Linked DNA regions of Homo sapiens. The protein of the gene in region 2 interacts with the protein of the main gene of each other region in a pairwise test. Each region holds a gene or a part of one and is shown on either strand. Other genes may lie near its edges.

Region 1 (7,026 bases), on a different chromosome or scaffold from region 2:
CCATCTTCTTTACTAAAAATACAAAAATTAGCACACAGTGGCAGGCACCTGTAATCACAACTACTCGGGAGGCTGAAGCAGGAGAATCACTTGAACCTGGGAGGCAGAGGTTGCAGTAAACCGAGATTGCGCCACTGCACTCTAGCCTGGGCGACAGAGCAAGACTCCGTCTCAAAAAAAGAGAGTTGATCTTCTCAACGACAACCTTAGTTCAAGTTACACTCGCTACTTAAATCTTCAGTCTACTCATAGAAATACATGTCATTGGCTTCTATTCCAAAGACTTTCGAACTTAATGGTTCCTAAAATGTGTAATTGTCTTTCCCAACCACCTTTTTAAAGATCATTGAACTTGATGGAAATCTTGAATTCTGTTATATTCTTGGGACTATTATAATATTTAACTCTTACAGATATTTAAAATGTTTCCATTTGGATTTTGGATGTCCCATATAAATTGATCTAACTTGCTGTTTCAACGTATAAAGTCACTCTACTGAAAGAAGAAAATCTGAAATGCATTACCGATTTCCATGACCTAATCACATAATTCTGAAAATAACTTAAACCTTTTTTGATGACTCAAGAGTACTACTATGAATGCATGTTATGTTAAAATCCTTTCAATGTGAATATCAGGTTGTAACTGACCCCAGTGTATAGGACAATTCCTATTTTTTTTTTAGATATAACTTTTTTTGAGACGGAGTTTCACTCTTGTTGCCCAGGCTGGAGTGCAATGGTGTGATCTGGGCTCACTGCAACCTCCGCCTCCCAGGGTCAAGCAATTCTCCTACCTCAGCCTCTCAAGCAGCTGGGATTACAGGCACCTGCCACCATGCCCGGCTAATTTTTTGTATTTTTAGTAGAGACGGGGTTTCACCATGTTGGTCAGGCTGGTCTCAAACTCCTGACCTCAGGTGATCCACCCGCCTCAGCTTCCCAAAGTGCTGGGATTACAGGTGTGAGCCACTGCGCCTGGCCTGAGATATAACTCTTACGCCATAAAATTTACCCATTTTAAAGTGTACAATTCAGTTTTTTGATATGGTCACAAAATTGTGCAACCATCATGACCCTCTTAACTCCAGAACATTTTCATCATTTGCATAAAGAAACCCCATGCCTGTTAACAGTCACTCCTATTCCCATGTCTCCCTAGCTCCTGATAACCCCTCATCTACTTCCTATGTGGATCTACCCATTCTGGGCATTTCATGTGAATAAAATCATAAATAAAATATGTATTTTTTATGACTAGTTTCTGTAACTTAGCATCAGGTTTTTTGTTTTTTAGACAAAGTCTCGTTCTGTCACCCAGGCTGGAGTGCAATGGCGCGATCTCGGCTCACTGCAAGCTCCGCCTCCTGGGTTCACGCCATTCTCCTGCCTCAGCCTCCCGAGTAGCTGGGATTACAGGCACCTGCCACCATGCCCGGCTAATTTTTTGTATTTTTAGTAGAGACAGGGTTTCACCGTGTTCGCCAGGATGGTCTCGGTCTCCTGACCTCATGATCCGCCCGCCTCGGCCTCCCAAGGTGCTGGGATTACAGGCATGAGCCACCACACCCAGACTTGTTTGTTTTTTAGAGACAGGATCTCACTGTCACCCATACTGGATTGTGGTGGCGTAATCCTGGCTCACTACATCCTTGACCTCCTGGGCTCAACCAGTCCTCTGCCTCAGTCTCCCAAGTAGCTGGGACTACAGGCTCACGCCACCGTTCCCAGCCAGCATGAGGTTTTTAAGGTTCACCCATGTTGTAGTATATACAGTCATATGTCACTTAATGATGGGGATATGTTCTGAGAAATGTGTTGTTAGGTGATTTTTGTTGTTGTGTGAACATCATAGAATGTACTTACACAAACCTGGCTGATATAGCCTACTACACGCCTAGGCTGTATGGTATAGCCTATGGCTCCTAGGCTACAATCCTGTATAGCATAATACTATAGGCATTTGTAAAACAATGGTAAGTATTTGTGTATCTAAACATATCTAAACACAGGAAAGCTGGGCACAGTGGCTCACGCCTGTAATCCCAGCACTTTGGGAGCCCAAGGTGGGTGGATCACCGAGGTCAGGAGTTCAAGACAAGCCTGGCCAACATGGCAAAACCCCGTCTCCACTAAAAGTACAAAAATTAGCCAGGCATGGCGGTGGGTGCCTGTAATCCCGGCTACTCAGGAGGCTGAGGCAGGAGAACTGCTTTAACCCAGGAGGCGAAGGTTGCAGTGACCTGAGATGGTGCTACTGCACTCCAGCCTGGGGGATAGAGCAAGACTTTGTCTACAAAAATAAATAAACAAATAAATAAACACAGGAAAGGTACAATAAAAATATGGTATTATAATCTTATGGGACCACCGTCGTATATGTAGTCAGTTGTTGACCAAAATGTTATGCGGCGCGTGACCATATCAGTACTTCATTCTTTTTATGGCCGAGTTACATTCCATTGTATGGGTATACCACATTTTGTTTACCCACCTGTCCGTCAGTGGACATTTGGATTGTTTCCACCTCTTAGCTGTTGCAAATAATGCTATTATAAACATTCGTGTATCAGTTTCTGTGTAGACGTATGTGTTCATTACTCTTGAATATATACCTAGGAGTGAAATTGCTGGGTCATATGATAACTCCATGTTTAATCATTTGAGGAACTCCCAGACTGTTTTCCAAAGTCGCTGTACCATTTTATATTTCCACCAGCAGTGTGTGAAGGTTCTTACTTATCTATACTCTGGCCAACACTTAGTATTTTCATGTTTTTTAAAAAATTATTATATCTCTGGAAAAACATGGAAAAAAAAGAAAATATAGAAAAAGAAGAAGAAAAAAATTTTAAAAAATTATTGTAGCAAACTATCCTAGTGGGTGTGAGGTAGTATCTCATTGTGATTTTGATTTGCATTTCTCTAATGATTAATGATGCTAAACATCTCTTCATGTGCTTATTTCTATTTGTCTTATTTAATCTTATTTATTTTAGCGATTATCTTATTTAATCCTCTTAACAGACTTCCTTAGAGCCTCTAAACAGTCAATAACCTCATTTTACAAAAAGGAAACGAATGCTTAGAGTTAAGTAACTTGACAAAGTCACACAGCTAATGATTGGTAGACCTATAATCCTGTGTTTCTTCTTTTTAAAATCCTTCAGAAGTGCCTCAGAACCCCCAAAACTGGAGGGGCTTCCAAGATCTAGCTCTTACATACTTTTCTAGTTTCATCTTCTGCCATCCTTCTGTAGGCCCACAGTCTCTAGCTATAGCAAACTTCTTACCATCCCCTAGGAGGCCATGCTGTTTAATACGCTGTTTTTGCCTTCCCATTTGGTGCTCTCTCTGGCTAGAACGCCTTTTGCCCTCTTTCTCATGTATAAACTTCTTTTCATCCTTCAAGACCCAACCTAAACGTTGAGCCTTTTGGAAATGTTTCTCAATACTACCAGGTACAATCATTTGCTTTCTTTGTTTTACAGTTCCCTTCTACTATGAGTATTTTCTTCATTGTATTGTCACTTTGTCTAGAAGTCTCTTCTCTTCCTGTCTCTTCTCTGACTCTCTCTCTCTCCTACTAGACAGTGAGCTGCTTGAAAGTGAGCACTGACCTTTGACATTTCATCACCTCTATATTCTCAGGACCAGGTATAGTCTGGTATAGAGTAGTTGCTCAATAAATATGTCTTGAATAAAATGCGTTTCACCTGCCAATTTGAGTATCTGCCCTTCTCATAAAAATAGAGTAAAAGGGCCACATACAGTGGCTCACACGTGTAATCCCAGCACTTTGGGAGGCCAAGGCGGGCAGATCACTTGAGGCCAGGAGTTTGAGACCAGCCTGGCCAACATGGCGAAACCCTGTCTCTGTTAAAAATATAATAATTAGCCAGGTGTGGTGGTGCGTGCCTGTAATCCCAGCTACTCAGGAGGCTGAGGCATGAGAATCACTTGAACCCAGGAGTGGCAGGTTGCAGTGAGCCAAGATCATGCCACTGCACTCCAGCCTGGGTAACAGAGTGAGACTCTGTCTCAAAAAAAAAAATAAATAAATAAATAAAAGATTTTTCTGTTAAAATATAGAAAGAGCCAGACATGGTGGTACACTGTTATAGTCCCACCTATGTGGGAGACTGAAGCAGGATCACTTGAGCCCCGGAGGCCAAGGCTGCAGTGAGCCAAGATCGTACCACTGCACTCCAGGCTGGTGGGACCTTGTCTCAAGAATTTAAAAAAGGAAAATATACTTCTGTGGAGTTCAGAACAATGTAAAATTAATGATTGTATCAAAAGATGAAGTTGTTTTCTTTCGGCTGTTTTTCTGACCCTTCAGAAAACCTCCATTGCTTTGAATCCTGTGGCTCTCAGCAGCATGTGAAACACGGAGGGCATAGCGGATGCCTTATATCACCTTCAGTTCCCTCTGTCTCCCTGGCGCTGTTGGACTAGGTCCAACATAAAATTCTTACAGTTCCAGAATATCTGGGGGAAGTTTTTTGTTTTTGTTTTTGAGACAGGGTCTTGCCCTGTTGCCCAGGCTGGAGTGCAGTGGCACAATCACAGCTCACTGCAGCCTCAGCCTCTCAGGCTCAAGTGATCCTCCCACCTCAGCCTACTGAGTAGCTGGGACCACAGGCATATACTACCACACACCTGGCTAATTTTTTAATTATTTGTAGAGATGAGGTCTCGCCATGTTGCCCAGGCTGGTCTCGAACTCCTGGGCTCAAGTGATCCTCCTGCCTGGGCCTTCCAAAGTGCTAGGATTATAGATATGAGCTACCATGCCCGGCTGGGGGAAGTTTTATTCCAAAATCTGCAATGTATTTTTCATCACCAGAAGATACCTCAGCAAACCAAACTAAGCCATAATTTTATCCATGACTTTTTAAATATATACATTAGAGTAGTATTCTAAGTATAAACAAATTTTCTTTTCTTTCTTTTTTTTTTTTTTTAGTAGAGATGGAGTCTTGCCCTGTTGCCCAGGCTAGAGTGCAGTGGCATGAGCATTGCTCACTGCAGCCTCGAACTCCTGGGCTCAAGGGATCTTCCCTCCTGCCTTAGCCTCCTGAGTAGCTGGGACTACAGGTTCGAGCCACTGTACTCAGCAACATTAAAACATAAACTTTTAGGTTGCAAATCTTATTTTAGGTTATAGATCTCATTCTCAGGCCACTGCACTCCAGCCTGAGTGACAGAGCAAGTCTGTATCTCAAAAAAAAAAAAAAAAAGAAAGAAAAAAAGGCAAAAATGGTTTCTCAAGAATAATTTGGCACACACTTGTATTCAGAAGGCTGAGGTGGGAGGATCACCTGAGCCCGGGGAGGTCAAGGCTGCAGTGAGCTGTGATCTCACCACTGCACTCCAGCCTGAGCAACAGAGAAAGATTCTGTCTAAAACAAAAAACAAACAAAGCAAAAAAAAAAAAAAAAAAAAAAAGACCAGGCGCAGTGGCTCACACTTGTAATCCCAGCACTTTGGGAGGCCGAGGCAGGTGGATCATGAGGTCAGGAGTTCGAGACCAGCCTGGTCAAAACAGTGAAACCCCCATCTCTACTAAAAATGCAAGAATTAGCTGGGCATGGTGGCCGGCACCTGTAATCCCAGCTACTTAGGAGGCTGAGACAGTAGAATCACTTGAACCCGGGAGGTAGAGGTTGCAGTGAGCCGAGATTGCACCACTGCACTCCAGCTTGGGCGACAGAGCTAGACTCCGTCTCAAATTAAAAAAAAAAAAAAAAAAAAAAAAAGAATAATCCTTCCTTAAGGTGAGGTCTGCAATTGACTAGTTGGAGTCGAGGGTTGCTATTCCCAGGTACACATGTAGTTTTGAAATGATCGCTCTCACTCTCTCTAGGTACATGAATATGATGAAACCAGTCAAAAAACATTTTTTTTTTCTGTATCCACATTTTTTGTTTTTGTTTTTGTTTTTGTTTTGAGACAGAGTCTCACTCAGCCGCCCAGGCTGGAGTGGAGTGGTGCAATCTCGGCTCACTGCAACCACCGTCTCCAGGGTTCAAGCGATTCTCCCGTCTCAGCCTCCTAAGTAGCTGGGATTACAGGCACCCGCCATCATGCCCGGCTAATTTTTGTATTTTAGTAGAGATGGGGTTTTGCCATGTTGGCCAGGCTGGTCTTGAACTCCTGACCTCAGGTGATAAACCCGCCTCAGCTTCCCAAAGTGCTAGGATTACAGGCGTGAGCCTCCTTTCTGTATCCCCATTTGTATAAGACAAGAAAATGTGTGGCAATAAAACTCTAAAATGTTTACATTTTGTACTCATTGAAAGCAGTGTTTTTAAATGTTTAGATAATTAATAATAATAATAATAGCTGACATTTATCAAGGGCTTGTTATAAGCCAGGCACTGTTATAAGCACGTTTCTTGGATTAGCTTCTAATATTCTCCATCTCGCAGCTCTGTAAGCTATAGGTATTATTATTGTCCCTGTATTAGTCCATGCTCTCATTGATAAAAAGAAATACCTGGCCGGGGCCAGGCACCGTGGCTCATGCCTGTAATCCCAGCACTTTGGGAGGCTGAGGCAGGCCGATCATGAGGTCAGGAGTTTGAGACCAGCCTAGCCAATATGGTGAAACTTCATCTCTACTGAAAATACAAAAATTAGCCGGGTATGGTGGCCCGCACCTGTAGTCCTAGCTACTCCAGAGGCAGAGACAGAATCGCTTGAACCCGGGAGGCAGAGGTTGCCATGAGCCGAGATCACGTCACTGCACTGCAACCTGGAGGGCAGAGTCAGACTCTGTCTCAAAACAAAACAAAACAAAACACCTCGCTGGGTGCTGTGGCTCATGCCTGTAATCCCAGCACTTTGGGAGGCCGAGGCGGGCGGATCACCTGAGGTCAGTAGTTCGAGACCAGCCTGGTCAACATGGTGAAACCCTGTCTCTACTAAAAATATAAAAATTAGCCACGCATGGTGGGATGTTCCTGTAATCCCGGCTACTTGGGGGGCTGAGGCAGGAGAATCGCTTGAACCCAAGAGGTA
Region 2 (7,346 bases):
TGTTGAGGACCTTTTGGAGGTCGGGAGCACTCAGAATATCATCAATTTTATAAGGAAAGTTGAACTTGCCTCTCCGGACAGGCCATGTTGTAGCTGGAGCCCTGGTGCTCTTACTTCGGGCCTTTCCCTTGGATTTTCCACTTGCCCTGCCCCCGGCCCTAGATCCACTCCTGGTGGGGTGGCAGCCTCCACCCCTGCCTCCTGGGCAGGGTAAACTCGGTGCAAGGGTCCTGTTCCCAGAGATGGTACCCACCCTAGCCCCTTTGCCTGCCTTTGCACTTGCCTGTTCCTTCAGCGTGTTGAAAAGGGCCTTGGCCTTGGCCTCTAGGCCACCTCCGCTGTGGGATCCTGAATGGGCCTTCTCTTTTACACCCGGACAATCCTCGAGTCCCAAACTCACCTCAGGCTTGACCTCTGAATCACCCTGAAGTTTGGCCCCAGACCCTGCCCCAGCGTTAGTTTTAGCTCCTTTCACAGTCTCAACCCCAATCTCTGAGGTGTCCGTAGACTCCTCGTCTTCGTCCCAGATTTTCTCGTTCTCGTCTCTTCCCCAAGCCAGTCTGTATACACAGTAGCAGGCACCAGCCCCGATAACCACACCAGCGGCCACGCAGCCAGCTTCCCGAGTGCGGCCCATGGTATAGCTGGGACAAATCTCTTAACCCGAGCACAAAACAGGCTCGCTCTGGCCCAGAGAAGCGCGCACACGTCGCGGGCGGAGTCTGCAGCTACTGCGGGCCGGCTCTGAGGCAGCTCGACCTAGGAATAAAGGATGCATTTCAGATTTCAGGCTCCTTTTTGTGTCTTTGAACGCAAACAGACTGAAACAACAACAAAACAAACAAACGTACAAAAATACAGAGATACTGGCAGAGACTCGGGGCTTGATATCTAGATCACTGATTCCTTTCTTCCACCCGGAAGCTAAGTTTGGAAATTTTCCCCGCTTAAAGACTCTCCAACCTCACGTTCCACCACCCCACCCTAGAACGTTAAAGTTCCCTGCCACCCCTGCCCTTCCAGATGTCCTGTGAACAGTGGCGCCCTCACATGCACCCACAGAGGTCCAGGCAGTTTTTTTTCCTTCTCTTTCTTGCTTCCAAGTGCACTGCTTCGTGCAAACCTGCAGACCAAGGGCGCGGGGAGAGGGGTACTGAGAGCTCTGGGTACATATAGATCTCACCCGGGACGGGGCACACATCCCTCTTCTGAATTCCTAGCCCTTTACAACTGCCTTGCCCAATGTTTCCCGCCTTCGGTTACCCTCCTCTCCTCACAGAGCTGCGGCTTTGGAATTCATTATCTCCCTCCCTCTTCCTCCTTCGATGATTCCTCTAACCCTCCATTCCACCTCCACCCCTACTCCCATCATTGGCATCCTCCGAAGATGTCGCCACACATTTTCATCGTTAACATTTTCCTTGTAACAAAATGAAGTGAGAATATCTAAAAGCCGTACTGGCGTGAAATGCCTAAAGGTCTCCAACTCCGCCCTTGCCTCCGCCAACTCCTCCATCTCAAATGTACCAGGACACCGCCGCCCCCCCCCCCCACCCCGTGTCATTATACCAACTACCTCTGCTCCGGAGCAATTTCTTACCTCCCTCACCTCGGTTTCCGCTTCCACTAAACCTTCAAGACTGACAAACTTCAGAAGTGAGTGCTTGGTCGACGGACCAACACCAAGGACCCTGTACCCCAAACAGTAATTTGGAGTAACGTCCTCCCAACCCCTGGACTCTCTTGACGCCCACCCCTTCTCAGCTATTTTCTTCCCTGTCTTGTACTTGCAGAACAATTTCTTTTGCAAGCTCCGAAATGGTGTAGATAAGAGGGAAGGAGGGGGATATGGAAGGGGTCCACGGGCCCATTCGAGTTGCAGTCGCCACCATGCTCCACCCCCAAATAATGCCATCACCCTTATTATGACCTACTTGGTTCTTGACAACTTTGCGTTTCTTCCTGCTCCAAGGGTTGGACTGGCCTCCGGCCCCAAGATCTGCAGACACAGGCAACAAGGCAGAAACTGAAGGCTCAGCGGACAGAAAAGCACTTCGGGGAGTCCCAATATCCACTTCTCCTAATTCAGGGTCCTGGCTGTCAATGGATTTTACCTTTTTGTTTCTCACCCTACCCTCACTTCTCTGGACTCCGCTGACACCAGCCCTGTCGCTTGGTAGTGTTCCCCTACCCCCGTCCCCGCCCCCGGCCCTCACTCCCTCCCGCAGCCCCAGCGGTCGGCCATTTTCCCAGCAAAACCACACCCCTTTCAAACCACTGGAAGCGGGGCGGGGCGAGGGGGGATATGGAAAATCCGAGGAGAAAAACAAAACCAACCGATCTCTTCTATTCCTCTCCCCAACGCACCCTACCCGCAATCACAAGCACTTTTCCTGCAGCCACTGTTACATCCTCTTTTACTGAAGAAAAAAAAAATGGCAGGAAGATTGCTTGAGAGTCGGTAAAGGGCCCAAGTTAAGGCAAGGACCTCAGTCATCCCAGTCCTTCTGGGCGCCGCGGGACAGCTCCAGCTTTACACTGACCTGCAGGGATTCCAGGCAGACTATTCCTTTGTTCCCAAATGGCACAGCGTCCTACTGAAAGAAAAGGGGTATGACTGTCAGACGCACAGCCCCAAGATTCTGGCTTGGTAGATGGGCCAGCACACAGGACATGAATCCGAATATCCGCCCTCCCTGATTCAAGGCCCTGGATGTTAAAGGTCCCACGACGCCCGAGTCTGGGGTCGCCCCTGGAATCCGGCCCCAAGGTCTACCATTTTTGTTCTAGAAAGGGCAAGGGATACTGCAAGGGTTTGGAGAAAGTGAACTGTGCTCCCCCTTCGGCCTCCACGGTTCACTGCCCGCGCCGCAGGGATCCCCTGGCAACGCCCATCCACACACAAACCTGCTGGGATCCAGGCAGAACCTCGTCCTCCTTCCCCCAGGCCACAGGCCCTCTCGCCCTCTGGGCTATAGGAAGAGTGCAACCGGACCAAACGAAGACTAGGATTAGAAGGACGTCTGCACGCGTCGGCTCCAGCTCACGTGAGGGCCACGTCAACCATGAGATCAGGACCCCAATTACCACTCCCATCAGCAGCGCCGCAGAAGCCGGCCCTCCCCTTCCTTCCCTGACACATCAGGTCCTGTCACTCATTTTCCTCTTTGCCAACCCCGGAGACTAGAAGTAGCTTCTCTTTGTGGTGAATTTGCCTTTCTTTGGTTTACAGGGAGAGGCTGTATCTGCTCCCGTGTCCGTTGGCCTTTTCTTCCTCTTCGAGGAATAATTTTTTATCTTCTCTAGTCCCAGTCCAACTGTCTCTCTCTATACCTCCCCCCATCACAAGTCATGAATGTCCTATTTCTTCTGCACCCCTGTAAAATGTGGAGCAAGATGTTAGAAAAGGAGATAGATCGTGGGAGTGTCTTATTTAAACTTTTCTGCTCATTTGTTTTTAAATCAGTAACGCATTACTTTTATATTGAGAAAATAAAATGATGCTATTTTCCTTTGAGTGGAGAGTTTAAACGGGAGAGAAAACCCAAAAGGCCTCATTAATTTCGTTATTTTATTTGTAACAGTAGGAAAATATTTCTACTGGTTACAGCCAATTAGTAGCTTTTAAAACAAAATAACTCATTTTAAAATTGAAAAGTGGGCTGAGGTGGGTGGATTGCTGGAGCCCAGGAGTTTAAGGCTGCAGTGAGCTATGATGTCACCACTGCACTCCAGCCTGGGTGACAGAGAGCAAGCCTCTATCTCTTAAAAAAAATGGATTTTTTTTACATGATCTATGAATTACTCCACAAAGAGACGACCAGTTGTCTAATCTTGGCCATTTTACACAAATAATTCCTTACTTTTTCTATTTTTGAATCAACTTGCAATTTGATAAGTTAAAGCAACACAACCCTGTCTTATTAAATTAAAGAAAAGCATGTATTTAACGTCCCAAAGTCTTGACCGACTGTTATATGAACCTCTTGTGATTTGATGGCTACTCTGATCACCTGCCTCTGAATTGAATTCCAGTCTACCAAGGCTGAGGCACCTGAGGGTGTGAGGGATGCAGCGATGTTCTAATCCTTCCTGCCCTGTCAAGAGCGGAAGAAGGTGCTGCCCTCCCACCCTTCCACATTCCATAGCCTCTCATCCCCTGTATTCAGGCACCCATCTATTGTTCACTCCAAAAATATATATAGATGAGTGACCAAGGTGGTAAATGCCACGTTTACTCAGGTGACCAATCAGAGTAAATACCTTTGGCTCCTTCCCTTCCTTCCCCAAATTCCCACAGAGGTAACAGCAATGCATCGAAGGGCTTTCTGTTCCTACCTACCCCTCTGCCCTTATTCATGGTGCCTGAGTGAGCATTGCTCCTAATACTGTGTGCTGCCACCACCTGACCTGAGAGGTGCAGCCCGCTGGGCTTCTTGCCTCTGGCTTCCTTAAAAAGAGAACCTAATCTTGTTGCAGAGTTACTGCCTGCCAGTCCATATCCACCTTGGTGCCCGCTCAGCCAAATGTATGCCTAAGGAACAATCCCCATGGATTAACCCAGAGTAGGCATTCTCACACGGACAACCTTGTGGACCACCTGCAATTGTGGTCATACGTATATTCATTTTCGTGGAGAAAGGAGCCATAGCTTTCATCAGATTCTCACAGGCATGTATGACTTTTAAAAAATAACTAAGAACTATTAATACTTTCCTGAAAAAAAGCTATATATCCCCTCAATAGAAAATCTACTCCTTCCCAGCACTGTGGGAGGCTGAAGCTGGCAGATCACTTGAGGTCAGGAGTTCGAGACCAGCCTGGCCAGCATGGTAAAACGCCATCTTTATTAAAAATACAAAAATTAGCCGGGAATGGTGGCACGAACCTGTAGTCCCAGCTACTTGGGAGGCTGAGGAAGGAGAATTGCTTGAACCCAGGAGGCATAGGTTGCAGTGAGTTGAGATTGTGCCATTGCACTCCAGCCTGGGCAACAGAGCAAGACTCCATCTCAAAAAAAAAAAGAAAAAGAAAAAGAAAGTCTATTCCTCTCCCCTCTTCTCTGTCTCTAGTTATATACTTATTTTTTTAAGTGCAGAAATCTGTAGAGTAGAATGCAAAACTGCCCTGCAATGCCTATTCTACCACCAAGCACTTTCAATGATATCGACCTTTCTTCCTGCAAATATACAGTATATGTATGTGGATGTGTCAAGTTCCAAGTTGAACAATATGCAAAACAAAACAATTGACATTTACTGCAGTACTTGCAATAAATCTGCACTTTAATTGGAGAATTTACATCTTTAAAAATGGAGTCTTTCTATCCATGCCAACTTTTGAGATTTTCAATAAATGTGATGTTTCTTTATACTCATTTCTTATTATGTTTGTGTTTTGTTTATATGAATGACATTCCCATTATGATTACACATTCTACCTGGTTATTGTTTGTCTCAGGTAAAGTAATTAATTATGATATATTTATCTTTAGTGACCATTCTTATTATTTCTAATAGTTTTTTCATCGATACTTTTGGTTTTTCCAGGTATGCATGCATAATATCTGCAAATGATGATTTTTCATTTCTTCTTTTCCAGTATTTATATTCTTTATTCTTTTATTTTCTGCATGTATTCCATTGACCAGAACCTGCAGAACTAGTTTGAATGATAATGGTGATTGAGGGCCTCCAGATCTTATTCTTGAAGAAAATGGGAGTGTCCTTAGTATTTCATTGTTTAGTGCAACCTGACATTTGCTGTTTGTTTTTCATGTGTTCTTCTTCATCTGTGTATGGATGATTTGGGGGATGCCTAAAGGTGCACTTTTATAACCCTTTATATAAGACTGAGGAAAATTAAATTGTCCATATCATAATACTGGGAAGGAGAGGAAATAGGGAGAGCGGCCACAAGTGCTGAGCTTATGGGGAATGTATTGGTGAGCAAAAACAACACAGACTCTTCTCTCGTGGTGGAAATAAGACCTTAATAAAATGAGCGCATACACACACACACACACACACACACACACACACACACACACACACAGAGAGAGAGAAAAATACTGTAAAGGAAAAAACCTCTGTTAATATCGTTTTTAAAAAAGGGGCATAGTCTGAGGATCAGGGAAAGTTTCCTTGCTGGGGCAGAGAGAGTGAAGTTTTCAGCTGAGATGAAGAAAAGCAGGTGGTAACTAGGAAAAGAGGGGAACAGAAAATAAAAAATCTCAACTTCCCCACCCCTCTGATAACTACTGTGATAACCAATCTACTTCAATCCTAGGATAAATCCTATGAAAACCACTGTTAATTTTTCAGGTGACTCTTTCCAGGTTTTGTTGTTGTTTCACATATATTACTAAAAAATATATGTAGATACATTATGTGTGTGTGTACACATATATCTTTCTAAAATAATTTGGGATTATACTATGCATATTATTCTGCATAACTATTTTTTTCACCTGATATATCATGTGAATCTTTTTAGCAGACACACTAATATTCTGAAGCGTGGATTTACCAGAATTTAACCAATCTTTTACTGATGGATACTTAGCCTCTTCCTAATCTTTATCTATTACAAAGATGCCACAGTGAAGACTTCTGTCTATATATATTTTGGCAACTATGATATTATTTCCTCAAGATAAATTCCTAAAAGTAAAATAATTGTGTCAAAATGGGTGTTCATTTTAAATTTTACCCATGCTGCCAACTTTCACCTCTTAAATTTATATATATATATAGGTCGATCGATAGATAGATATATATATATGCATTCTATGTTGTGCTCCAAATAATTAATTTATTTAATTATAAGTGAGATTAAACATCTTCTTAGAGGTTTGTTAAGCATCTGTATTTATCTTTCTGTGTACTGTCTTTCCTCATTTTTTTACTAAGTTGTTCATCTGTTTCTTACTAATACATAAGAACTTTCTGCAAATTAAGCAAATGAGTCTTTTGACTTCAATAAGTGTTATAAATATTTTCCCGATTTATAATTTTTTGGACTTCTATATAGAATTTTTTATATTTACAGTACAAAATTTACCAACTTTTTTTCTTTTTTTTATTATACTTTAAGTTCTAGGGTACATGTGCACAACGTGCAGGTTTGTTACATATGTATACATGCGCCATGTTGGTGTGCTGCACCTATTAACTCGTCATTTACATTAGGTATATCTCCTTTTTTTATTATTATTATACTTTAAGTTTTAAGGTACATGTGCACATTGTGCAGGTTAGTTACATATGTATACATGTGCCATGCTGGTGCGCTGCACCCACTAACTCGTCAACTAGCATTAGGTATATCTCCCAATACTATCCCTC

The links. The genes of interacting proteins can lie anywhere in the genome.
Region 1: the proteins of ARMCX1 (region 2) and ZBTB8A interact in binary tests that used the Homo sapiens proteins (3 or more experiments, as listed by UniProt).

Annotation. Positions count from the first base shown.
Region 1 is NC_000001.11:32,542,401-32,549,426, forward strand, and holds part of ZBTB8A (zinc finger and BTB domain-containing protein 8A), read left to right. Parts: intron 1-7,026. UniProt on the Homo sapiens protein: May be involved in transcriptional regulation.
Region 2 is NC_000023.11:101,546,222-101,553,567, reverse strand, and holds the start of ARMCX1 (armadillo repeat-containing X-linked protein 1), read right to left. Parts: upstream 3,022-7,346; 5' UTR 2,908-3,021; intron 2,598-2,907; 5' UTR 2,544-2,597; intron 2,000-2,543; 5' UTR 1,935-1,999; intron 760-1,934; 5' UTR 638-759; coding exon 1-637. UniProt on the Homo sapiens protein: Regulates mitochondrial transport during axon regeneration. Increases the proportion of motile mitochondria by recruiting stationary mitochondria into the motile pool. Enhances mitochondria movement and neurite growth in both adult axons and embryonic neurons.